4 linked regions of the Homo sapiens genome follow. The protein of the gene in region 1 purifies or fractionates together with the protein of each later gene. This does not show direct contact. Each region holds a gene or a part of one and is shown on either strand. Other genes may lie near its edges. The genes, in order: LRRK2, DNAJA1, HSP90AB1 and NCL.

Region 1 (7,031 bases):
TTTCATTAATTAATGAACGAAAGTAACTGGTATTTATAAGAAATATAACATTGTGTTTTAAATAGTTCTTTAAAATACACATTTACTGGTAAGTATTTTTACATATATTTAAATTAAAAATAATAACATTCCTTCATACACACGAGCTATTTCAAAAAATGTGAGTACCCTTTCCATGTGAACATTTTTAAAATAAATATTTACAAGAGGAGAGAATAATTTTCCTATCCAAAGACAATTCCTATTTCTCTCTTACTCAACAGATGTTCGTCTCATTTTTTCAGCTAATTCTTTTCTCACTTCAATGTGTTTTTCTAAATTTTGCACTTCATGTGGAAGATTGATGTCCCAAACGGTCAAGCAAGATTGTATCTCTAGAAAAAGAAAAAAATGAAATCATGTTTCAAAGATCCATCATAAAACATTCTTATTTTATTTCAGTTTGGCTCATGTATTTTTAGTTGACTTAGATAAATGTAAATATAAACACAGCTATAACTAATGTACTAAATTATTATTTATAAAAAACTATACTTGGAAAAGTTTTATAATACATTATAGAAACTATTAAATTTCAAATAGAGTATCAACATTTAATAAATTAACATTTCATATTCTAAAAGAAATAAAAGCTTTTTCAAACACTGTTCAAAATTAGACATTATGTAGATATAGATAAGTTGTAAAAAATATTCACATTTCGTTTAAGGTTGAGCTAGTGATTGACACCTCTACTTCAGCTGAAAATATAAATATTTAACACTTCATATCACTTGTAATTTTGAAAATTTATGTCTAAGTTCTTTACACTATAAACTACCAATTAAAATTCCTGATTATACCATATGTAATATTTTCTACAAATTTATGAAACACATAATATGTTACCATCATTCACATCATTGCCCTGTTTGGAAAACAGTATCCTTCTAAATGTTACCTTTCTGCTTTTGTGTACCTTCAGTATTTTTCCGGTTGTAGCCCAATACCAGCATGACATTTTTAAGGCTTCCTTTACAAAAACAAAATATGTAAGTTTTCTGTTAAAACTATATATTAAACTGGCCTGAAAAAAAAGTAAAGTTGTTCATAGTTTAAGACACAAATACCTTGGAACTGAATTCACAATTCTATTTTCTAGGTGACCCTTCAATTATATTGAATAAAGACCAGCATTTTTTTAAAAAATAACAAAATCTGTGATCCACTCCTTGCTGCAATTCTTAATTATGTGAGTCTGAGAAAACAGCTTAACCTTTCTATAAAATAGGCTCAGTATTTATACATTACCCTTCCCAAAGTTACAATGTTAAACGAGGTAATGTGTGTGAAAAGTTCTTTGGATATGGTAAGGTACAAATATGAGTATTTAGTACAAATATGAGTATTTAGATGGACACTTAGATGGATGGATATACTGATACTATGTCAAAATATCATATTTTCTTTTCAAATCATTCACTAATTTATTCAACAAATTTGCATCAAAAGTCTTCTATGTAGGCCCTAGGCTAGATCCTGGGAAAAAAGGGGTAAACAAAAACACACTAACCCAACCGTCTTGGAGTTTATATTCTAGTGAAGAGACTAGCATTAATGAAAAAAAAATATGACCATGATCAAAACTATGCAAGAAAGCTGTTATGGGAACCCAAAGCGGGAACTTTGACCTAATCAGTGTTGGCTTCTCAGAGGTTTTGACACAGGAGCTAACATTTCAAAGCATATGAGTTAAATAAGCATGAAAAAAAGCTATGTTAACTAAGCAAAGAAATAAACAGCATGTGCAAATCCCTGAGGCAAAATATAGCATAGTAATTGAGAAGAACTGGATGTTCATCTAGACAAGCAAGATCTGGTAGGAATGTGGTAGATGATGGAGGCAGGAGAGGTACAGTGAAGCCAGCTCATGCAGCACCTTGTAGGCTATCCTCCAATTGATCTTTATTTTAAAATCAAACTATAACCCATAGACATTCCACTATAACTTCAGTTATAAGCAAGCTATTTGGGTCCCAAAGTACATACAATTCAACTAGAGAATGCAACAACTTTGGTAGAATAAGACTACTGAGACAACCTATTGAGAGACCTACTGCTCTGCTTGTGTGGACATGTATCTTAATAGTTTACAGTCATTAAGAGCATCTAATTGTAACTCCTGTGCAACTCTAAAGTCTATAAATGAAAAATAGGTGAAGGTGCTAGAAAAACACATGTTCCTCTTTCACATATACTTGCAATGAATATATTTTCTTCACCATGTTCAAAACATTCATTATTTGCTAAAGTTACATAAATTCTAGTTTTTTTCAGAATTAAACCCCATAGTGTCGTTTTTGTAAACTTTTGTATATATGCTATTATTGTTATTTTCTAAAACAAATTATTATCAAAGGAAGACGCAAATATATTTATGCAGAAAATATATTTTATGTGCTATCACAATTTTATCATATTTAAATATAAAAATAGAAGCAAAAAAAGACAAAGTTTGAGTAAAATATGATTTGTCAATATTTGTAGGTTGTGCAGTTCAGCATGTATTGCTGCAAGAAAAAAGATTTGTTATAGAATGAAAAACCAAATGAGATTCTTTAACAAGCTGGGAGGCTAGACTATGATTAAAACAAACATTTTCTTTATTTTCTTTGCTCAAAAAGTAAAATATATTCAATACCATGTATTTCCCATTTTTGCCTTAGGTAAAAAGGAAAAAAGCAAGTAAGACCCAAACTGAGTGTTCAGCTGCAGTAATCTGCTTCTCTTGTGGGACTGAGAGCATTTACTCCCTCCACTTCTGTAATGACCCTATTCACAATTTATACCAGTCTTATGTTTCACTGTGTGACCCTCCAAGACCATCCATATGACACTGGAAAGTTCAGAGAAAATGTAAACGTAAAATAAAGGCATATTTTATAAGACTTAGAGAATATGAAAAATATCTAAAGGAAAGAAACTTGCCTAGCTGTGCTGTCATCATGACTCTGACCGAATTACAAAAGTTGTAAATTACACGTATAAGTCGACGAGTTGAAAGATCCAGGAGTAAAATATGGCCTCCTCCAGTTCCTATCCAAAGAGCAGTGTTCTTCTGAAGGCAGAGGGTTTTCACTCTCCCAGAATAAGACATTTTGTGTTTTGATTCCTTGTTTTCTTTTACCATTACCTCCCTAGAACCATAAAGTATACATTAATAATTTTACCACCAATTAAGAGATAAATGCTATTTACATATGATAACATAAACAACATTTTAAATTATTAAAACATGACACCACCACCATTATGCATCATTAAAATTATACAAAGCAAATTTTGCTAAATACAGATGCCAAAGAGCCACACTTCTTTACTTGAAGCATAAATTATCAAAGATAACAATAGCCCTTCATTTTCAGGAAATTATGAATAAGAGGGATACAATTTTTATAAATACCAAAGCTATCTAATTCAGTAAAAATAGCATACATGTGCCCAGGATAAAGAAAAAAAAAAGTTAGAGTCAAAAGTTTTACATGAAGTCTCAATGTTACAAAGGAACATAAAATTATAGTCATTCACATGTAAAAGATATCGATACAAACCACTGAATTTTTTCCCAGAACCAGTGAATAGTCTAATTCATGACAAAAATGAAGTGTCCAGAAATAAAAGAATCCTAATCGTTTTGGTACTTCAGGAAGTAAGGAACCCTTTATCAAGGAGACCTGTTGGCCCTTCTGAACATAAACTGTGAGCCCTTCTCACAATCCATAGAAAAACTGTCAGATGAATCTAAGACAGGAAACTTTGAAGTATCCTTTTACAGATATAGTGTGTAATCTAAAATGTTCTCAAGAGTATCATAGATCTATATGGTAAAATCAAAACAAAATAAAAATATAAAGTGGCTAGCAAATAAGCTTGAAAATGGTCCTGTTTCTCAGCACCAGCACAGAAAGAATGTGCTTGCTATGGATTTGTCACTCACAGGCTGCATCAGACTAAGCACTATGCTCTCATTCTGGGGTCTTGATCCCCACTCCTTAGCGCCTCGGTCAGTCCATTGCATTTCCCCCCATATTTGTCTATTATTTTGTGACTCTTTTTCTTTAGAGCAGATAATCCTGGGGCCCATAATTTAATTATAAATAGTATATTTGACACTGTGACAGAACTATGTCAAAGCTAGCAGAGACTCCAATATGCTCATTTTCAATAATGTAGTATTTTCATTCGAGAACATTCTTTGTAATACCATGAGAAAACTATGCACATTATGTGCCTATTCTTTTATGTTCTGAAGACAAAATTTTCTTGATCTGAAAAGATGGTGCTGAGAAGCATTACAAATTTTTTTCTGCATTTTAAAAAAATTCTCTATTCAGAGGCAGAAAGGAAGAAAAATCCTTCCTCTGTGACACATGAAGTGCAAAGATAATTCTTTTGGGAATAAAATTAAAAACCACAGAATTTACCTTAAAAAGTGCACGCAGTCTATTAGTCCACAGAGTTTTTCAGTTTTCTTATCCCACACTTCCACAACAGGGCTATTTTGCTTAGCAATATAGAGAGCAGTGTCTACCACCACTGTTATGATGTTGGAATCACTGAAAGCTGCATAAGAAAACCTACAGAGAAAAAAAAATAGAAAGTCATCACTATTTGTTTTCTTCTTAAAATTTCTACGTGTAATACAACCTTATATTAGTTCTTAATGTAAAAACACTATTTTGAAAACTAAACAAGCTAGACTATTGCAATTATTTCATATTCTTCCCTAACCATTCTGAATTGAATATATAACATGCTTTGGTACTTTACTTACTTTTGGTTACTTTATATTAATTTCTTGTGATAATAAAATAAAGATTATGTCCAATGTTTACTTTGGTCTTACTTTTAGTTTCAATTCTATGTGGCTCTTTGTAGAATTTTGTACTATATCTAAATTTCTGAAGGAAATATTATATCTGTAACTTTTGAATGTTCTTGCAAAACTTTGTTTCATGAATGCTCAGAAAATTAAGTGTTAGCCTTTTATACCTAGAGTTATAAAATATAAAATGCTGAAATAAAATTTAGTTGCAGTGTCTTCAAATTTTAAAGCAAGGGATATCTTTGCAGTTAAGCCAGTCAAATTATAGAAAACAAAAATCCACATCATCCAAACATAAACAGAAAGTAAAATATTTGCCATTTTCCCCTTTTAAACATAAAGAAAAATTACGAACACCTTAAAATATTTCCCTTTCAACCTAAGACATCTGGCATTGTACATATTTCACAAACAGATTGGCTACCTTGGGCCACATCAGCATGGCAAACTCCTACTTGGCCTTTGAGGATGAACTTAAATGTCGGCTCCTCTGGATTTCTTCCCTGACCTATCAAAATAGACCAACCAGTCCCTTTTCCCCACTGGTGTCACTGTCATATTATAGACCTTATTAAATATAAAATTGTCTTTATTAGTGCATCCCTCACACTAGATTATGAGTGTAATTTCATAAGGATGAGGACAATGTATTTTCTACATACCCCTCGTCCAGTAAACAGTTGCACAGATAAGCACCTCTGATATAATCAAGCAGTCTGTTAAGTGGGGGAATAGAAGAAGGCACTACAGTATGAATGAACAACGAGGAATATGTAAAAATAGTCAAAATTGCATTTAAATCAGATAGATAACATGAAAATACCATAAAGATTTAACAATCATTAGTATATCCTAGAGTAGGAAGATTTTTTTTCCTCCCCCTTTTCTTTCTATTCTGGAAAAGGAGGTAAAAATATGATGTGTTGTCAGAGAGCCACTACGCTTTAGGTAATTCCTTCTTGGATATTTGCTGTATTTAATAGAAAATAGTTCCAATTAGGACAAAGTTTTGCATGGAATTTCCGTATTTTATAAAATACTTTTGTGTGTTATCTTGCTTGATCCTTAATAAAAAAACATAAAATATGATAAATCTCAATGTTTTTAATAGTAGAAAGAAACATGTACAAATGCTAAATAATTTGCTCAAGGTCCTATGACTAACATCATGCTTGCCGACCTAGGACTAAAAACATGTTGCAGACCTAGAACTCCAAAAGTCCTATGGAGTCTTCCGGCTTCAAAGGCAGTCATCTTTCATTACCCAACATGCCTCTCAGTCGGTGTGTACTGATGATGATGAGGGTACTGATGATGAGGCAACCCCTGATTAGTGATGTGATGTCTGTTTTGTGGGGTAGAGACCAAGGCCACAGGAGATACTTGTTCAGAAGAGAGCAAATATTTATATTTAAGTGTTTATGCATCTAGGTCCCAATCTCTTTTGGGAGATGAGCATCTTTGAGAGCTTGATCTTTATGGATGCTCTCTAGTAAAGCATCTATGCTCCAAATCTTATATGGAACTTTAAAGAGTTAACTGATATCCATAATCCCATAAAATGTGCTATGAAATAAAAAAATAAACTGGAGGCCCTTTCTTTTTAAAGGTTTTCAGGCTTGTATAATTGGGTTAAAAGTGGAAATTACAGGAAGGGGAGCAAAGATGAAAAACTACCTATCAAGCACTATGCCCACTTTCTGGGTTGTGAGTTCAGTTGTATTCCAAACCTCAGCATCACGCACTATACTTTTGTAACAAACCTGCACATGTATTCCTGGAATCTAAAATTAAATTTGAAAAATAAAAATAATAAAAGACATTTTTACATTCATTTTTTAAAATGTGGGTATTACAGAATGAGAATGAGTTGATCCAAATGTTAACCACATACTAGTAAATAAATATGTAAAGACAGAAATAAAAATCCTCATTCATGGGAACTTATAATACACTGCACTCCGCAGTATATCTTAACCTCAAATATACTTTAGAATCACTTGAGAACCTGAAAAAAAAAATCTGATCCCCATCCCAGGCTTAACTGGTCTGATTTAATTGGTCTGAGGTAGGGCCCAGGTATCATATTATTTTCAGCTACCTAGTGGTTTCTAAATGCACAGCCAATGTTGAAAGCCAGTAGATTTAGTGGTATTGAGAAACTACT
Region 2 (7,172 bases), on another chromosome or scaffold:
ACATAATTTTGACACAATAAAGCTGAAACAAGAATAGATAGATGGCAGGCAACGAACCAGTTTTCAGCCCTGGCTCTGTTGGCTTGCTATATGAGCTTGAAGAAGTTTTAGGTTTCTGAACTTTAACTTACTCCCATTTGAAAAAGGCCACTGTACCTACCATCAAATTCCTTTGGGGAGTGAGGGAACACCAAATAAGATCTGTAAAAAGGGCTTGGAAAATTATATTGCTATATACTTTGTCTTTTTTTTTTTTTTTTTTTTTTTTTGAGACAAGAGTCTCGCTGTGTTGCTCAGGCTGGAGTGTAATTGGGCGATCTCAGCTCACTGCAACCTCCACCTCCCGGGTTCAAGCGACTCTCCTGCTTCAGCCCTCCTGAGTAACTGGGATTACAGGCACGCACCACCATGCCTGGCTAATTTTTGGATTTTTTTGGGTTTTTTGTGACAGAGATTCACTCTTGTTGCCCAGGCTGGAGTGCAGTGGCGTGACCTCCGTTCGCTGCAACCTCTGCCTCCAGGGTTCAAGCGATTCTCCTGCCTCAGCCTCCAGAGGAGCTGGGATTGCAGATGCCCACCACCACGCCCAGCTAATTCTGTAGTTTTGTAGAGATGGGGTTTCACCATCTTGGCCAGGCTGGTCTCGAACCCTGACCTCAGTGATCCACCCACCTCGGCCTCCCAAAGTGCTGGGATTACAGAATGAGCCACAGCACGCGGCCTGTTCTCATAATTTGTTTGATAATATCTAAGATTTTTGGAAGCAGTCATTTGCTACCACTCTGTTGGCTATTTTTTAGGCCCCTTAAATCTCATTTTAAAAAAAGCGACACCACTGGCTGGGCATGGTGGCTCACACCTGTAATCCCAGCACTCTGGGAGGCCAAGGCAGGTGGATCACCACCTGAGGTTTGCAGTTCAAGACCAGCGTGACCAACATGGTGAAACCCCATCTCTACTAAAAATACAAAATTAGCCGGGTTTGGTGGCACATGCCTGTAATCCCAGCTACTTGGGAGGCTGAGGCAGGAGAATCGCTTGAACCCGGGAGGTGGAGGTTGCTGTGAGCTGAGACCACGCCATGGCTCTCCAGCCTGGGCAATAAGAGGGAAACTCCGTCTCAAGAAAAAAAAAAAAAAAACCACAACAAAAAAACACGACACCATAAATCAGAGGCAATTTGTGGTCAGTTTGCAACATTATACCAACATGTAAACAAGCATTTAAAATGGGTGATTTCTCAAAGATCTGCTCTGACCAACAGCTAACTTTAGTTAGCTGCACAAAGACTAGATTCTTCTTACCTCTCCTTTCTCTCTGCATCCTTCCTCCTCCTCCAAAAAACATATCAAAGATGTCCATGGGGGAGCCAAAACCGCCACCTGCTCCACCCTCTTTAATTGCCTGTTCTCCTCCTTTGTCATATAATTCCCTTTTCTTTGCATCAGAGAGAACTTCGTAAGCTTGAGAAATCTGTTTAAACTGTTTGAGAAAAGAGGAGTGAATTTCATTTTTTAAAAAACAAGTGTTACCTAGCTACATTACACTTGATCTTAGCTAAAAAGGCCGAGAAGTGATCATAGTTACTATATTAGATACTCGATTTCAGGCCATAATAGAAATACTATACGTCTGGCAAAGAACTATTCAGATACGTTTAAGAGTAGATACTATTCACCTTCTCTCCTTCATTTGGGTTCTTATCAGGATGGTACTTCAAAGCCAGTTTCCTATAAGCCTTTTTCAATTCTTCCTGAGTAGCATTGGGTTTGACCCCCAAAACATCGTAGTAAGTTGTTTCTTTCACCATCTTCTACTGCCTGAAATAAGAAAATGCAACTTTAACCGGCTTTCAACTGGTAGCTTTTAATAAAAAAGAGAGCTAAGGCCGAGCAATCTCTTTGCAAAATCCGATTATAAGAACACCACCTTCCCTAAATTTCACCAAAAAGGTAACAATTCCTGCGATAATTCAGCTATAAACTCGAACAGACAAAACAAATAATCATTATCGGGAAATAATCTGAGAGCCGCCTTCTAGCAGCTGGTTCCAATTTTCCTACACCAAAGCTTCCATACTAATATAACACAACTATTATCTGGATTCTTCCCGTTTGCCCTAGAGGCGGTGACAGTTGTAACCAAAAGAAGCACTGATATGTTCAGTCTACCGGTCATTACACTATCACTGTCTTTGGCAAATCTGATAAACTCCATATACTCTCCAGAAAAAGACGTCTGGGCACACAGTGGTGGGGGGGAGTGGTTTATAGAACAGGTTACTGGCTCCACACAGCAAGCCCTCCACCGCCCACGGCTTACAGCTTCTCCAGCCGAATCCCTCTCGCCCCTCAGGCTGGCAGAGTTTACCTGCCAGGTTTCCCCTTGCACTTGGCGCTGACCGATTTCCTTCCTTTCTCCCTCCCACCCTGGACCCAAGTGGCGGTGGGGAAAGCCCAGCCCTCAACAAACAAAGGGAGGGGAAACAGAGAAAGCGAAACCAAAAGCCGCAGTCTCCGCCCGGCTCCCCCCGCAGCCCCTCGCCCCTGCCTCCCTGTGCGCGTGCGCAGGGTCGCCAACCCCACTCCCCCCCCCCACCCCGAGCGAGCACGGACGGGGAGGGGGGCCGCGGGGGCGCGCACGGAGGGGCAGCCGAAGACAGTAGCTCCTTGGAGATCCCAGGCTGGGGAAGGAGGGAGGTCTAGGAAAGGTCTCGGGCCCATTCACTGTGCGTGCCGGGGATGGGTTGCCAGGGCACCACACCAGCCCTCCAAAAGGGAAATCGTGGGCCCAGGAACTGACAGCGGTCCTACCCACGCGGCCAACTGCCTCCCGACCGCGGCTCCATCGGTTTCCCGGCGCCAATGGCGCCAGCCAGGGGACTAGGGGCAGCGCGAGGGCTCAAACTCACCGGTGCGGGCTGAGGCCGGTGTGTGAGGGAGCGGGAAGGAGCGCCGAGCTGTGCGCAGCCGGGGTAGTTACCGCTCCTCCGCCTCTCACCGAGCGTTCTGGAAAGTTCCGCCCGGCGCGCCGCAGCCGTCCTCTTTTGTAGCCGAACCCGGGCGCGTCACCCGCCGGAAGTCCCGCCCTTCTCGGCCGCTGCCACCGCCCCGCCGTTACCTGGGCAACGGCGCGGGGGCGCACGGGTCGGGAGGAGCTGCGCCGAAAGGCCTTGTGGGTGTTGGTGCTAGCGCGGCTTCCCGGCGCTCGTGGAATCTTCTGGAGCCCTTTTCTCCACTCAGCGAGCCTGAGAGTGCGGAAGTCTCCGGCTGGTGGGGCATGGCCCAGGAGCACTGCAAGTCCTAGGGTTCCCAAACCTGTGGGGTGGCCGCCTGGGCCCGCGAGGGCGGGAAGGGCTCGAGTACAGTGACCCAGCGGGAGCTGTGTGTGAACGGGAAAGCTCTTGGAACAGTCTTGCCCCCCCCCCCCCCCCTCTTACGGGCGCCTCTTCTCTTTTTGGGAACGTGGCGAGCAAAAAATGCTTGAGCCAGGTGGGTCTAGTCCCCAGACCAATAGCATAGGCCTTGGGTCTTGCTGTTTTTCACGCGTGGTCCAAGGCGGCATAATTAATCAAATTGTGAAGTTGTTAAGGCTTTTTGTGCAAGTCCAGGCCCCTAGACACATGTTATCTGCCCTGGACCTCGCTGATTCGTGCAGATTGAGCTCAGTGTGTCTGGGACTGAGCTAAACAGTGAGACGTTTGGACCGTCTTTGATGTACAGAGGGCCGTGGACTCCTCTGGTCAGGTTTTCACCCAGTTTGGCTACAGAGTAGCCGCAAGAGTGTCTGACTAAAACAATTTGTTTAATTATTTGACCTCACTTTTAAATCCTACGGGTCAGGGAACCTGGATGTACAATCTGCAACGTAAGACCTCGGACTTGAAAATGGTACCACGGGGGCTTAATGGGAATTGGGGTCCGCTTCTTTATCCAGGGACACAGCAGGTATGTCAGTATCTAGCACCAAGAAAGATGGAGTTTGCCACGCTCGGTGGCTCACGTGTGTAATCCCAGCACTTTGGGACGCCAGCGTGGGCTGATTGCGTGAGCTCAGAAGTTTGATACCAGCCCAAGCAACATGGTGAAACCCCGTCTCGATTTAAAACAAAAACAGAACTGGAGATGCAGAGTTGAAAAGCCCCAGTTAGACTTTAGTGAGAAGCCAAACAAGTCAACAGACTGCCAGAGAAACCATGAGGTAGAAGTCAGTAGGGGAGAGCCTCCTATATTAACCTGATAGATCAGAGAGAATTTCTTTGGGAAAGTGGCAATTGAGCTGAGTTTTGAAAATGGGAGGAGAGCAGTGGACAAAGCACAGGGGAAGGCTATACTAAGGTGTGGAAGAATATGATGTTTTTAGGAAATTGCAACTAATTGGATATAGCCATAGCTAAGGGAGCTAGAATAGCCGGAGGTGAGGCTTCAAAGCTAGTTAGGGCATGCCTTTGTCTGTTGGTATATATGCTACGCTAAGAATTTTGAACTTTATCCTTGGAAGCATCCTCATGCTGCCTCTTCAGCCTTTTCTCTTTCATTAATTTTAACTGTGCATTCCAGTCACAGAACTATCCGCAGTTTCCCATATACGCCTTTTCACCTTTGTATGCTTTTGCATTGGCTGACAGACACCTGATTTTTTTCAATCTTAGGTGTTGCCTTCTCAAGTATCACCTCTGGTATAAAGTTTTTTGTTTAAACCAACCGTTAATAAACGTCTAATATTACCAGGCAGTGTACTAGGGCTTTGTAATACAAAAATCACGTAAGTCAGGCCGGGCGCCGTGCCTCACACCTGTAATCCCAGCACTTTGGGAGGCCAAGGTGGCGGATCACCTGAGATCCGGAGTTCTAGACCAGCCTGGCCAACTTGGTGAAACCCTTCTCTACTAAAAATAGAAACAATTAGCCAGGTATGGTGGCACGTGCCTGTAGTCCCACCTTCTCAGGAGGCTGTGGCAGGAGAATCGCTTGAACCTGGGAGGCGGAGGTTGCAGTGAGCAGAGATGGTGCCGCTATACTCCAGCCTGGTTGACAGAGCAAGACTCTGTCGAGTCTCAGAAAAAAAAAAAAATCACATAAGTCGTGGTCCCTGCCTTCAAGGAGCTCACAACATAGGGAACCAGAAACAAACAGTTGAGTGTTAAATGCTAATAAAGGAAGAGTAGGGGGTGCATGGTGGCTCAAGCCTGTAATCCCAGCACTTTGGGAGGCCAAGGCAGGCGGATCCCTTGAGTCCCGGAGTTTGAGACCAGCCTGAGCAACATAATAAGACCTCGTTTCTACAAAAATTAGAGTTAGTGTGGTGGTGTGGGCCTGTACTCCCAGCTACTTGGGAGGCTGAGGCAGGAGGATGGACCTGGGAGGTCAAGGCTGCAGTGAGTGGTGATTGCACCACTGAACCTCAGCCTGGACGACAGAGCAATACCCTGTCTAAAAACGAAACTAACAAAAAAGTTAACACTTTTAAGAAGCATTCTTACGTAAAATAAAATAAAAAAACTGGCAATAACTTTGTATGTGGTCTTCGTTTGTACAGAAATGGGATCATTATACAAGCTGTTTACAGCTTGCCCTTTTCACTTTGTCATCTTACTATGCCAGGATAAATAACTAATCTGCCTTGTTATTTTTAATGGCGTAGTATGTAGGCACCGTAATTTATTCCCCTACTGATGAATATTTCAGCAATTTCCAGTGTTTTACAAACTGCTGCAGAGAAATTAGCAAATACAGCTTTGAGTACTCATGCAAGTATTTCTGTTGGATGGACAGCTAGAATTGAAATTGCTGAGTCAACATGAATGTAGATTTAAAATTGTAATAAATAAGTTTCCATACTGGTTTGTAACTGCTTCCAGCAGTGTGTGAGTGGGCCTTGCCAATATGAGGGCCTTTTGTTGTTAAATCTTTGCTAAGCTTGGAGATAAAAAGTGATATCTTATTGTTTCGAGTTTCTTTGTTAGTAAGTTTAACCATGTTTTAAATGTTTACTGACTCTCCTGTCAACTGTTCATATTATTTTACCATTTTTCTGTGGTGTAATTCCACTATTTTAATAATAGCCCTTTTAGGGGTAGATATTAGTCTGTCATGTGTTACAATTGTTTTCTTTAGTATATTCTTCGCTTTTTACTTAGTATCTATATATATATTTTTCGGCCATATAAAGATTTTAATTTTTATGTAGATAAATTGTGACTCTTCCTTTTTGGCCTTTTTCTTCTCTCCACCTTCCCCTTCATCAGTCCAGCATTATAAATATAAATCTGTTGTCCCAGGTTTACAGGTTAGGTCTAGTACTTTCATTGTTTCCCTTTTTTTTTTTTTTTTTTAAATTAACAGCCTTGATGTGTTGCCCAGGCTGGCCTCGAACTCCTAGGCTCAAGTGATTCTCCTGCCTCAGCCTCTTCAGTACTTGGGACTACAGACACCTGCCACTGCATCTGGAATCATTGTTCCATTTTAAACTTAAATTTTTTATTCCATCTGAAAGTTATTTTGGTGTAAGGACTGAGGATTATTTGTAAGTAACTGATCTTTATTTTTCTCCAAATGGCAAACTAGTTTGTCTAACACTAATCTTATTTTTCCTGACTAATGTGAAATCCGCCCCCCAACCTTTTTTTTGTATGTGCAGAGATAGGGTCTTCCTATGTTGCCCAGGCTGTTCTTGAACTCCTGGGCTCAAGCAGTTGTCCTGCCTTGGTGTCCCAAAGTGCTGGTATTATAGGCGTGAGCCACCACACCTGGCCACCACTTTTAATGTATACTTAATTTCCACTGAAATACATGGTACTACTTCCCTTCATTGTTCTTGCTTTTTAGAATATTCCTTGTATTTTTTTTAATATGTTTATTCTTCCAGAGGAACTTAGGAATATTTCTGGCAGATTCCCCCCAAATCCCATTGTGAGTTTTATTGTGATTACAGTGATTTTATATATCAGTTTGGAGAGAATTAACACATTTAAAATGTCGAATCTTCCTACTCATGAACATATAACTGTATATTTATTTTCTTCATTTTTTAAACTAGGTCTTCATCATTTCTTCTTAAATGTGTTACTAGGCATTTTTTGTTGTTGCTGTCATGGATGGCCTCTTTTCTTACCATTATATTTTATTTCAGTGGGATATTTCATACTTTCTTTTTTTTTTTTTTTGAGACAG
Region 3 (4,314 bases), on another chromosome or scaffold:
AGTCTTGCCCTAGCTGTGCTCTGCCACCTTCCAGACTCACTCCCCTCTGCAAATACCTGCATTTCTTACCCTGGTGAGAAAAGCACAAGCGGTGTAGGCTCCAATGCTGCTTTCCCAGGAGGGTGAAGATGGTGCTGTGCTGAGGAAAGGGGATGCAGAGCCCTGCCCAGCACCACCACCTCCTATGCTCCTGGATCCCTAGGCTCTGTTCCATGAGCCTGTTGCAGGTTTTGGTACTTTAGAAATGTAACTTTTTGCTCTTATAATTTTATTTTATTAAATTAAATTACTGCAGTGGACTTGGTCCTGTGTTTTGGTTGACTGAAAGGGCATTATTATATGGTAGTTTTTCCAAACTGCCTTTAGCTTCAGTGTGTGAACTCTTAAGACTCACTGGTATTCTGTTATTTTCACTACAAAACCAGCTCAACTTGCTGTGCTCATGAAAACAGCAAGAGCTGGAGGGATGAAGAAGCTAGGGAAGGATAACATCCACTTCACAAGGGAAAGCAGAACTGTATAAAAACGGCATATTCTTTATTTTGCATACTTTAATTTCAGAACAAAATGAAGAAAATAAAATAAACCACAATACACAACATCCAATCCTGCTGTCAAGAGTAGAGAGGGAATGGGGCTTGACACCCTTAGTTTACTGCCTTCAACACAAGGACAGGAGAGGGAAAAAAACACTAGACACCAGCAGGGGGAGCCAGGTGGGACAGGGGCACTCGAGGCTGCAGTGGGAGCCCATGGGGACACTATACAAGGGCACAAGTTTTCCAACTATGAACTCCTAACCTAATCGACTTCTTCCATGCGAGACGCATCCTCATCGCCCTCGAGAGGGGGGATCTCATCAGGAACTGCAGCATTGGGTTCCTCTGCTGCCACTTCATCTTCATCAATACCTGAAGTAAAATTAAGCCATGTGAGACTTGACCAAATAGCATTAAGTCAAATCCATAGAGGAGACGAGTTGCACAAACTCCTTGCCACACCAAGTACCAAAGCTACTTACCTAGACCTAGCTTGATCATGCGATAGATGCGGTTGGAGTGGGTCTGGGGATCCTCAAGGGAAAAGCCAGAAGATAGCAGGGCGGTTTCAAACAGCAGCACCACCAGGTCCTTAACTGCCTTATCATTCTTGTCGGCCTCAGCCTTCTGCCGCAGCGTCTCCACAATGGGGTGGTCAGGGTTGATCTCCAGGTGCTTTTTGGCCATCATATAGCCCATGGTGGAGTTGTCCCGAAGTGCCTGGGCTTTCATGATCCGCTCCATATTGGCTGTCCAGCCGTAGGTGCTGGTCACAATGCAGCAAGGTGAAGACACAAGTCTATTGGAGATTGTCACCTGTGGACGATCACAAAAGCCTTAGATTGACATTACCACTTTGAAAGAGAAAACAGGCATTGTCAAGCCTAATTCCAGCAGGGGGAGGAGGTGGACAGACCACTTGAGTTTGAGACCATGCTGGCCAACATGGCAAAACCCTGTCTACAAAAAATTAACCGGGTGTGGTAGCACACATCTGTAATCCCAGCCACTCAGGAGACTTGAGTTTGCAGTGAGCGAGATCCAGTCCAAAAAAAAAAAAAATCGGCCAGGCATGGTGGCTTGCGCCTGTTAATCCCAGCACTTTGGGAGGCCGAGGTGGGCGAATCACAAGGTCAGGAGATGGAGACCATCCTGGCTAACGCGATGAAACCCCATCTCTACTAAAAATACAAAAAATTAGCCGGGGTGTGGTGGCGGGCGCCTGTAGTGGCAGCTACTCAGGAGGCTAAGGCAGGAGAATGGCGTGAACCCAGGAGGCGGAGCTTGCAATGAGCAGAGATCGTGCCACTGCACTCCAGCCTGGGTGACAGAGCGAGACCCCATCTCAAAAAAAGAAAAAAAAAAGAAAATGATGGTATTTTATCTACTCTCAGAAGTTAACTGAAGCAATGCCTAATCTGTGCCAAATTTTATTAAAATAGCCTTAAACCTGACTAGAGAAGAGAACAAGAGGCAAGAAGGCATGAAACAGTAAATAGGCTGCCTCAAACCACTAATTGTATAGAAACATGCTTGTGAGGGAGCCCACCTCGAAGATGTTACAAAATATATCCTAGCCCCAGAATGGCTTACCTTCTCAACCTTCTTATCTAAGATTTCTTTCATGAGCTTGCAGAGGTTCTCAAACTTTGCCTTGCTCTCTTCCATCTTCTTCTTCTCCTCCTCATCCTCAGGCAGCTCCAGACCCTCCTTGGTAACTGAGACCAGGCTCTTCCCATCAAATTCCTTGAGCTGCTGCACACAGTACTCGTCAATGGGCTCGGTCATATATACCACCTCGAAGCCCCGTTTCCGCACTCGCTCCACAAAAGCTGAGTTGGCCACCTGCTCTTTGCTCTCACCTGTAGGGTAATTAAATGAACTCAGTGACTAAAATGCCTCATACTGCCAGTTCCCAGGAAGCCCTAATTGTGCTCCCCACTCCTCCAAAAAGGCTTCAATCAGAGTCAACGCACCAGTGATGTAATAGATGGACTTCTGTGTCTCCTTCATGCGAGAAACATACTCTGACAGAGATGTCATCTCATCTCCAGACTGGGAGGTATGATAGCGCAGCAGCTCAGACAGGCGGCGGCGGTTAGTGGAGTCTTCGTGGATTCCAAGCTTGAAGGGTGGGAAGAGGAAAAACAATCCAGCTTAACTACAATAACTTCACTTTCAATGTGAATGGAATAATTTATTGTTATTACTAAGAAAGTGGTAAAGGGAATAAGCATTATTTGCCTTTTTACCTTGAGATTTTTAGAGAATGCCTCATAGAATTTCTTGTAATTCTCCTTGTCTTCTGCCAGCTCAGAGAAGAGCTCAAGGCACTTCTTAACAATGTTTTTGCGAATGACTTTCAAGATTTTGCTCTGCTGGAGCATTTCTCGGGAGATGTTCAGGGGCAGATCCTCAGAGTCAACCACACCACGGATAAAATCTGCCATCAACCAGGGTGAGAAAGCTCAGTAAAAAACAGCTAGACCAGACCTGGTCCCCAGATTCAAACAGAAGGCTCTAATAGCCTCCTGAACCCTTACACCTACTATGTATTGCAGAAAACTGTTACCTTAGAATATCCTAGCAGAATGCCTAAAACCTCCCAAGACTTCACCCAACTAAATTAGGCCAAGGAGATACTCACTGAGATACTCTGGTATCAACTCATCACAGCTGTCCATGATGAACACACGGCGGACATAGAGTTTGATGTTGTTCTTTTTCTTCTTGTTCTCAAAAAGGTCAAAGGGAGCCCGACGAGGAATAAATAGCAATGCCCTGAATTCCAACTGACCTTCTACAGAAAAGTGCTGAAAGAAACCAAAAATAAGTGGTACATTTCAAAAGAGGACCTTTTAGCCCCAACACCAAATTATCTAAAAGTGGAACAATGATCCTCCCTAAGCCTAAGGGATAGAGCACACACAACAAGCAGCTCCTGAGAAAACTGAGCCTTAATGCCCTCCACGATCTAGATGGGTACTAGCTGTATGTAGAAAACAGTCCCCTCTGATCAGAACCCTGGATGTGTAAGGCTGCCAATAGACATTACCCAGATTTCCATAAGAAGAGAAAGTGAGGTCATTAGAAATGATGGCACTTCACTATGACAGGGTAATCAGTAAGTGAAATCACATGGCTATCACATTTCTGTTATCAGTTGGACAAGTTCCGTGTGTCTATTACCCAACACTCTTCCACCTAACTCATTCCTCTCCATATGTGCATGTTGAGCCAACATGCAAAGGCTTCTCACACCTTGACTGCCAAGTGGTCTTCCCAGTCATTAGTGAGGCTCTTGTAGAATTCTCCATACTCCTCTTGGGTGATGTCATCAGGGTTTCTGGTCCAAATAGGCTTGGTCTTGTTTAGTTCTTCCTGATCAATGTATTTCTCTTTGATCTTCTTAGTTTTCTTCTTCTTATCCTTACCGCTGTCATCCTCCTCATCTGAACCCACATCTTCGATCTTGGGTTTTTCTTCATCATCTTTATCTTCCTCTTCTTTCTCACCTTTCTCTTCCTCTGCCTCATCATCACTAATTTCCTTCTCTCGTTCCTTCTCCAACTAAGTAACAAAAACAGAAGTTAGCCTTGGAGTACAAAACACTACCAGGGAAAGCAAAAGCCAGGGACAATGAGATTCTCCAGAACAGGAAACATCCTGCACGTTAAGTGTAAAAGATTTAAAAGTCCATACTCACATAAAGGGTGATGGGATAGCCTATGAACTGAGAATGCTTCTTCACTACTTCTTTGACCCGCCTCTCTTC
Region 4 (7,849 bases), on another chromosome or scaffold:
TTGATCCCAGAATCTCAAGATACCTTGTAATCAGAAGCCCAGTAACTACCAAGACAACTCCTTACCATCTTCCTCATCGTCATCGTCATCCTCATCATCTTCGTCATCCTCATCGTCCTCATCCTCTGAGGCAGGGGCAGCAGCTGCTGCTTTCATCGCTGCTGGTTCAATTTCATCTTCATCCTCATCCTCGTCCTCGTCATCCTCCTCATCCTCCTCACTGTCATCATCCTCCTCTTCATCACTGTCTTCCTTCTTGGCATTCTTGCCATTCTTTGCCCCCTTGGCTGGGATGGCAGCACCCTTCTTACCAGGAGTTGCTACCAATGCTTTGCCTGGTGTGGCTCCCTTCTTGCCAGGTGTGGTAACTGCTTTGGCTGGTGTAACTGTCTTCTTGGCAGGTGTTGCTGCTGCCTTTTTGCCTGGAGTGACAGCTGCTTTCTTGGCTGGTGTGGCAACTGCAACCTTTTTTGTTGGGGAAACGACCACCTTCTTTGCTGAGGTTGCAGCAGCCTTCTTGCCTTTCTTCTGAGGTATGACGACCTTGAGAATAAATGAAAACCAAACCAGTAAGTCCAGCCCCACACCCAAAAAGATAACCATGGTCCCAATGAGATGTTAGACTCTGGCAATGCCTCTGGTTCAAGACCACATGCACTAGACACATTAGCATGTTAAACTCCAGGCTTCTGTTATGTTGTCTTAAGTCAGAGCCCCTATCATAAGGTGAATACCCAGACATAAGGAACTCTTTTGAACACTTAAAAATACCTCTGAACCAGACCCTCTGAATTCTTACACCTCATACTTTCCCAAGCCCCAACTTTCTCATCTGAAAATGGTAATAGTATCATCCTTACATGTTTAAGGATCATGAATTGCTATGTGTAAATTATTCAGAACCTTACACATAGGAGGCTCCAAGCATTAACTTATTAAATCATTTGGGGCTCCTACAGTGGGTGGCGGTACCAAGCCCAGTGAAGCTCAATTCTTAGGACCTGAGACAAAAAATGAATAGGCTAAATATAAATATTCCTTACAAAACTATCACACATCAAAGAGTGTGCATGGTAGTTTGATAAAAGTCATCATTTAGCTACATTAAAATCCCGTAGTTTTATCAGGCAATGTGTGGAAGAGTAAAACTTTCATTCAGTTCTCAACGAGAAACCTGAGCACAATTCAGTGCTCAGCTGTCTTTATAGTGAGCAAATAAAAGGCCAGGAGTGCTAAAGAGGGTCAATGGTAACACAAAGAGAGGTGGCAGCCCTCAGTCTACACCAGAGATAACTATAAAACACAGTGAGTAGTATTACAAAGTTTATATATAATGGAATGGAGACCAATTAATTTTAATTGGAGGCTAGGAAAGGAATCTGGTAAGGTTATCCTCAGCTCTGAATACAATGCCCAGCTCTACATGTGGGGGTGAGGCTAACATGTTGAAACTGGAAAAATGTAATGATTTAACACAACAAATCACACTCCAAGCCCTGCAGAGGAACATGTAAAAGAAATTCCCAGATCTCGTCTTACACTCACATTCAAATACTTAGCCAAATGACATCTTGACATGTCAATGAAGAGCTTGTGAAACACTCAACCACTACAATAAGACATACCTGAATAAAATCTTATTTTTGCCACAGATATCCAATTTCATGTCTTAACTCTCCATTTTGTAGTTTTAACATAATTCTGCATTAAGTTGGATAAAATTACCTCTTCTCCACTGCTATCATCTTCTTCATCTTCTGACATTTCCTCATCTTCACTATCTTCTTCTACCTCCTTTGGAGGAGGAGCCATTTTCTTGGGGTCACCTTGATTTTTACCTGCCTAAAATGGACACAAATAGATCATTACACCTCCACCTCGACATTTCAGGCCATTCATATTTTGCCATTAGTGTTCATACGCCATCATCTCCGTCCTCAGATCCATTTCTCATAGTGCCAAACACCACAACTAACATAGAAACTACTCCTGATGGCAATGCAAGAGGGACTACTCTCAACCGCCCACATTTTTCCTCCCAGGCTTTACCAACAGAAAACCTGCCCTAAGGTAAAAAGTCAACCTGAGGAAATGATTTCTCCTCCCGTTACCTTAGTTAAGCACAACCGTGTTTTAATACTACAAATCCCGGTACTTTATTCTACCACCCTCATCTGAATCCAAATTAACGGTGAAGATCATTAAGGCACTTAAAAAAATGACTACCTTGATTTTCTCATGAAGCTTATGCCTTTCCCAGCGAGACAACCCCGCCCCTTAAAGAGGCGGCGCGGCCACGTGGGGGTACCTGGTAGGCCACCACGTGCCCGAAACACAGCGCAAAAGGCACGCGGCAGAGCCACCTTCCGGGGCCCACCACGTGTCGGCTTGCCAGGCCGGGGCGGAGACATCCGAGCGCAGCCGGGACTCCGACTAGGGCCGATACCGCCATTTCCCGGCCCAAGGCACCCGGTCCCTCTGGAGATTCCAGGACCCACGCGGCGCGGCCCACGTGGCAGGCCGCGCTCCCGGGCACGTGCGTCAGGAGTCGAGTCCCAGCTCGTACGCGTCGCAAAAGTTTGGTCTCATCTCTCCACCCCGAGGCCCAGCGCCCCCTCCCCGCGCTCAGTGACTCTGTCTTTCCCGCCGCGTTCGCCGCCCCCAGCACCTGCAGAAGCTCTTCACCTCGCCACCAAGTAGCCAGAAGCCGCGAGACCTCCCCACTAATCGCGCGAGACTTCCCGCAGCATGGCGCCCTAGAACGCGCCCGGGACTGCGCGCAGGCCCTCCTCCCCGCGGCGCCGCGCTCGCCCCTCGGAAAGCAGGCCTACACGTCTGCGCTCGCGCTCAAGGCCGTTTACCTTCGCGAGCTTCACCATGATGGCGGCGGAGTGTGAAGCGGACAAGTGGCGCAGATGAGTCCAGAAGAAGCCAAGCGACGGCGATGGCGGCCGCGGGTGCTGAAGATCCCGGAGCACGTACACCCGAAGGCCAGCGAGAGCTCGAGACTGAGGCGAAAGACTGAGCCTGCCCAGTAATCGCCTGTGGAAAGGCGACGACGGCGCCCTCGTGACTCCGCGCCGACCAACCAAAGCTCGCGGCCGTCCCCATGAGCCAATCGCGAGCCTCTAACCGTGAACGGCGCGGGGCGGGGAGTAGGCGGGCCGAGGCGGCCACGGGAGGGGGAGGGGCTGGCAACGGCGCCGTGGGGGCGGGGCTCGCTTTGTGCAAGGTCCGCGCTGATTGGGCCGTGGGCGCGCGGGTCCCGGCCTGCGTCGTGGGACTGGCGTTTTTGGCGCCGGCTGTGAGGGGAGCGCGGGGGTGGTGGAATCGGGCGGTCTCCGGTTCGCCAATGTGGCTGGGTCCGTAGGCTTGGGCAGCCTTGGAGTTCCTCAGAGACCCCGCGCTCGGTCCCGGCACGCACTCACGCCGCGGCTCCTGGTGGCCCTGGAGCGAGGAGTCCGCCAGCACCGGAAGTTCAGGGACCGCGGAGTTCCCGTTGGCCCTTTTGGAGGCACAGCTTATCCCTGCTTGCCCGCGAGCATGGGGCCGGAGGCACCCCCCGGCTGCAGGCAGTCTCCTGAGAGCTGTTAATAAAGGCAGTCGCGGGTCTGTGCGAGGTTTTCTGTGAGAAATGCACGAACCTCCCCTACCCCACAGAACCTCAAGCGGGAGATATTTCTCGACATGGGGAACGGCCTCGGAGAAGTAACTTTCTGGCCTCACAGGGCAGGGAGAGGGGCCTGGGAGGGCCGACCGCAGAGCCGGGCCTTTGACCGCCCACAGGTTCCCTGGTTATTATTTGGGTCGAATGCGCCAATTAAGGTGGTGGCTGCGAAGTCAGTGTCACCAGATGGCCCGGGAGCAGGTCGAGAGCCACCGGCAGGGTTCCCCGGCGGCAGGGCGAAGGAGGCCGCCAGTGACTTCCACGGTTAGCTTTGTGGGTGGGTCTCACTCGATGCCGGGCTTAGCAAACCAGAGCATTTCCCTCCGTCCAGGGCCTGCCGGGGATCCATCCCATCCATAGGTCCAGCTATGGATCCATCCATACCTCATTGTTCCTACAGAACCAGGATATCTGCAGCTACGGCTGTACTTGTTAAAAATCACCTCAGGCCGGGCGCGGTGGCTCAGATCCGCAATCCCAGCATTTTGGGAGGCCGAGGCGCATGAACCGGGGAGGCGGAGGTTGCAGTGAGCCGAGATCGCCCACTGCACTCCAGCCTGGGCGACAGAGCGAGACTCCGTCTCAGAAAGAAAAGCATTTGTTAAGGCCGGGTGCGATGGCTCATGCCTGTAATCCCAGTACTTTGGGAGGCTGATGCAGGAGGATCGCTTGAGTCCAGGAACTTGAGACCGGCCTGGGTAATATAATGCGACCCTGTCTCCACACAAAAAATAATTAGCGGGCATGGTGGCGCTCGCCTGGAGTCCCAGCTACTCGGGAGGCTGAGGTGAGAGGATCGCTTGAGCCCAGGAGGCGGAGGTTGCAGTGAGCCGAGATCGCGTCATTGAACTCCAGCCTGAGGAACAAGAGCGAAACCCCATCTCAAAAAAAAAAAAAAGAAAGAAAATAAAATTATTTGTTAAATGAATGAAGTATTTAGGTAGAAGCAGCAGCAGGGAGAGCCGGCATGGCTCAAGTGGCGTTGCTTTGGAGTTGGTCTGGGGCAGCAAAATAGCAATATCTAACACTTCATAATGCTGATTCAGTGCCAGGCGCTCTTCCAGCTCTTTACATATTAATTAACTTACTCTTCAAAATAACCTTTCCAAAAAGTTACCACTGTTTTACAGAAACTGGGACATAGAGGTAAATTAACTTGTCCAGGGTCGCATAGCTAGCAGTGGAGGCGTAGGATATAAGTGAAGACACTGCTGTGTCATCCCAGTTTCTTTTTTTTGAGACAGAATCTCACTCTGTCACCCAGGCTGGAGTGCAGTGGCAGGATCATGGCTCACTGCAGCCTTGACATCCCCAGCTATATCAATCCTCCCTCCTCAGCCTCCCAAAGGTGAGCCACCACGTCTGGCCTGTTTGTTTCTAAATGCTTTTTTGTTTTCTTTTGAAAACATGAGTATTTATTGAATTGTAAAGTATACACATAGTGCAAAATTCAAAAGATTCAAACAGATGCACAATAAAAGGTCTCCCTCCCGTTCCTGTCCCCTAGGCCTCCCAGTCTCAAGGCAGTGGCAGTCTCTTGTATATCCTTCCAGATTCAGCCGTACGTGCAAATAGACAAGTATATTTGTTATATTTAATACAAACGCTATCATATACACTGTTCTGAGCTCTTCTTTTGTGTTAACTATATGTATCTTGTAACTCATCCTACATCAGCACATGTAGAGCTGCCTCATTCTTTTTAATAGCTACATGGCATTCCTTGTGTGGAAGGATCACAATTTATCTAGTCACCATTGCTGGATAGTTAGGGTTTTTTGCTATGTTTGGCCATTACAAACTGCTATAGCAAATATTCTCACTTACGTTATTTTACACAAATCATATCTGTAGAACAGCTGGGTCAAGGGTATGGACTTTCACATTTTCATAGATGTTCTCCCAAGTGCTGTCTTTGGTTGGGGTTTTCCATGGCCGTTCCAGCCAAGAGCGACCCCACCTGCTCCAGCTGGCTCAGATTATCTGCTGCCCCTGAGCTCCAAGGCTGGGAGACAGTGCTCCACGTTTTAGCAGAGGAAGAACTAGATGGTGGTGAGAGGTGTGAGCATGGCTCTAATTATTGTGGGGAGTGTGACTAGTCTCAGACACCAGCCAAGAAGCTGCAGGGATACCACTGCCTTGAGTGGCCACTGGCTGCTTCTTTGGGCCTGCATGGACCCGGCCCAACTCTGTCTGCTGCTGTGGTCTGGCTGCCCCCCATGAAACCTGTGTAGTGAGGCACCCACTTGGGACACCCATGGGCACTTCTGACCCCTGAGACCCAGTAGGCCATAGTGGGCCTCATACTCATGCTAGGATCTGACAGCCCACTGGAGGGGGTCTGCAGGCTTCCAAGGATTAACTCCACTTCCCAGGACTGGGCTTCTAGGAAATAAGTGTCTCAGTTAGGCTCCAACTAGCCAAGAAAAATCACATTGAGTATTTAAAAAAGAGGGAGCTTAGCGCAGGGACGTGGTGACATGAGGGATAGAATTGCTGAGAAGCCGAGGGGACTGAGCAGGAAGCAGCTGCCCCCCTTCCAGGCTCTTCCACTGAAGGCTATGATGAGGGCCCGGGCTGATGCCAGGGAAGCTTCAGAAGGTCAGGAGGTTGGGGACATCCTGTGTCTCCCCTGCTCCTCCCCCTGAGTTGCAGGTAGGGCTGGCCAGACCCAGCCAGCACCCAGCCCACAAAGCCTGCAGGGTGAGTCCCTGCCATGTAGGCCGAGCAGGGCAGGGCTGGGCACCCCAGCTGGCCGGGAGGGAGTTCACAGCCTCAGCTTCCAGAGCTCCAGGTCTGCTGAGTGTGAAGGCCTGGGGTGTCTGCTATGAAGTTCCCTTTACCAGTCCAGCCTCCTTCTGTCTTCCTTCTGTCTTTGGGTTCACTGAGGCCTTTGGATACTGCCCAGATCTTCCCCAACACTTTCCCCCAGATGTCAAAGGGGGACCCTAAGCTCTTCCTCCCTTGCCAGGCCTTGCTTAGTGTGTTAGCGAGCCTTTCCCAGAGGAGGCATCTGTGTCTCAGGGTCCCAGGAGCCGGAGCCAGAGAACCCAGCCTTTGTCTTCCCGAGGCAGCCCGAGAAGCTTCACCTGTTCACCCAGAGGTAGAGTCAGCCCGTTGCCAACAACTGCAGGCCCCTGAGCCTGCTGGAGGAGGGTGTTGTGGGCCCCAGATCAACGTCATCCCCAACTTCCCTGCTGCACCTCCCAGGCCTCTCCATCCAGGAGGTTGGGCCCTGCTGGAGAGAAATCTGTGATGATGCAGATTTGGGGCCTCCAAATGCCCTGCCCTCCCAGCAGCTGCCCTGGTAGCAGCCCCAGCTGCTAGCCCAGATCATCTTCCAGGAGCTCCTGAACGCTCTCATTTCCCTCTCCCCAGCCTCTATGCCAAGCCTCTTCCCTCAGGCCCCTCACCTCTCCTTCTCTGCCCTCCCTGTCAACAGAGTTACTCTATCTTCTCCTTCATAGGGAAGGACAAACCTCCCAGAGGGATTCCCACCCTCTGATTTCTATACATTTGCAGACATCCTGAGCTCTCTCTGCCACTCCAAAGCCCCAAGGAAACCAGAGTCTTTCTCTATAGCACCCCTTCCCCTGTGCCAGCGAGCCCCTCCTCACCCCCTCCTGGGGTTCCCACTACAGTGATCTCCTCAGCTGTCACTCGCCACTTTTTTGTGTTTTTTGGTGTGTGGGTGTGTGGGGGTGTGGGTGTGTGTTTTTGGACTCACTCTGTTGGCCAGGCTGGAGTCCAGTGGTGTTAACACAGCTCACTGCAGCCTCGACATCCCAGGCTCAGGTGATCCTCCCACCTCAGTCCCTTAAGTAGCTAAGACTACAGGCGTTTGCTACCACGCCCAGCTACTTTTTGTATTTTTTATTTGTTTGTTTTTGAGACAGAGTCTTGCTCTGTTGCCCAGGCTGGAGTGCAGTGGCGTAATCTCGGCTCACTGCAAGCTCCGCCTCCTGTGTTCAAGCGATTCCCCTGCCTCAGCCTCCCTCCCGAGTAGCTGGGACTCCAGGCACCCACCACCACGCCTGGCTAATTTTTTGTATTTTTAGTAGAGACAGGGTTTCACTGTGTTAGCCAGGATGGTCTCCATCTCCTGATCTCCTGATTCGCCTGCCTCAGCCTCCCAAAGTGCTGGGATTACAGGCGTGAGCCACCACGCCTGGCCTGCCACCT

Evidence for each region.
Region 2: the proteins of LRRK2 (region 1) and DNAJA1 purify together in Homo sapiens (co-immunoprecipitation; 4 studies listed by BioGRID and IntAct, with this or other methods). This does not show direct contact.
Region 3: the proteins of LRRK2 (region 1) and HSP90AB1 purify together in Homo sapiens (co-immunoprecipitation; 6 studies listed by BioGRID and IntAct, with this or other methods). This does not show direct contact.
Region 4: the proteins of LRRK2 (region 1) and NCL purify together in Homo sapiens (co-immunoprecipitation; 3 studies listed by BioGRID and IntAct, with this or other methods). This does not show direct contact.

Annotation. Positions count from the first base shown.
Region 1 is NC_000012.12:40,360,987-40,368,017, reverse strand, and holds part of LRRK2 (leucine-rich repeat serine/threonine-protein kinase 2), read right to left. Parts: exon of another isoform or gene 4,834-7,031; intron 4,617-4,833; coding exon 4,464-4,616; intron 3,177-4,463; coding exon 2,968-3,176; coding exon of another isoform or gene 2,885-2,967; exon of another isoform or gene 1,013-2,884; coding exon 941-1,012; exon of another isoform or gene 375-940; coding exon 253-374; 3' UTR 1-252. UniProt on the Homo sapiens protein: Serine/threonine-protein kinase which phosphorylates a broad range of proteins involved in multiple processes such as neuronal plasticity, innate immunity, autophagy, and vesicle trafficking.
Region 2 is NC_000009.12:33,021,123-33,028,294, reverse strand, and holds the start of DNAJA1 (dnaJ homolog subfamily A member 1), read right to left. Parts: upstream 3,023-7,172; 5' UTR 2,912-3,022; intron 1,821-2,911; 5' UTR 1,811-1,820; coding exon 1,679-1,810; intron 1,483-1,678; coding exon 1,305-1,482; intron 1-1,304.
Region 3 is NC_000006.12:44,250,086-44,254,399, reverse strand, and holds the end of HSP90AB1 (heat shock protein HSP 90-beta), read right to left. Parts: coding exon 4,246-4,314; intron 4,110-4,245; coding exon 3,801-4,109; intron 3,353-3,800; coding exon 3,187-3,352; intron 2,983-3,186; coding exon 2,792-2,982; intron 2,664-2,791; coding exon 2,516-2,663; intron 2,402-2,515; coding exon 2,133-2,401; intron 1,356-2,132; coding exon 1,022-1,355; intron 912-1,021; coding exon 802-911; 3' UTR 517-801; downstream 1-516. UniProt on the Homo sapiens protein: Molecular chaperone that promotes the maturation, structural maintenance and proper regulation of specific target proteins involved for instance in cell cycle control and signal transduction. Undergoes a functional cycle linked to its ATPase activity.
Region 4 is NC_000002.12:231,461,475-231,469,323, forward strand, and holds the start of NCL (nucleolin), read right to left. Parts: upstream 3,011-7,849; 5' UTR 2,880-3,010; coding exon 2,862-2,879; intron 1,843-2,861; coding exon 1,726-1,842; intron 544-1,725; coding exon 66-543; intron 1-65. UniProt on the Homo sapiens protein: Nucleolin is the major nucleolar protein of growing eukaryotic cells. It is found associated with intranucleolar chromatin and pre-ribosomal particles. It induces chromatin decondensation by binding to histone H1.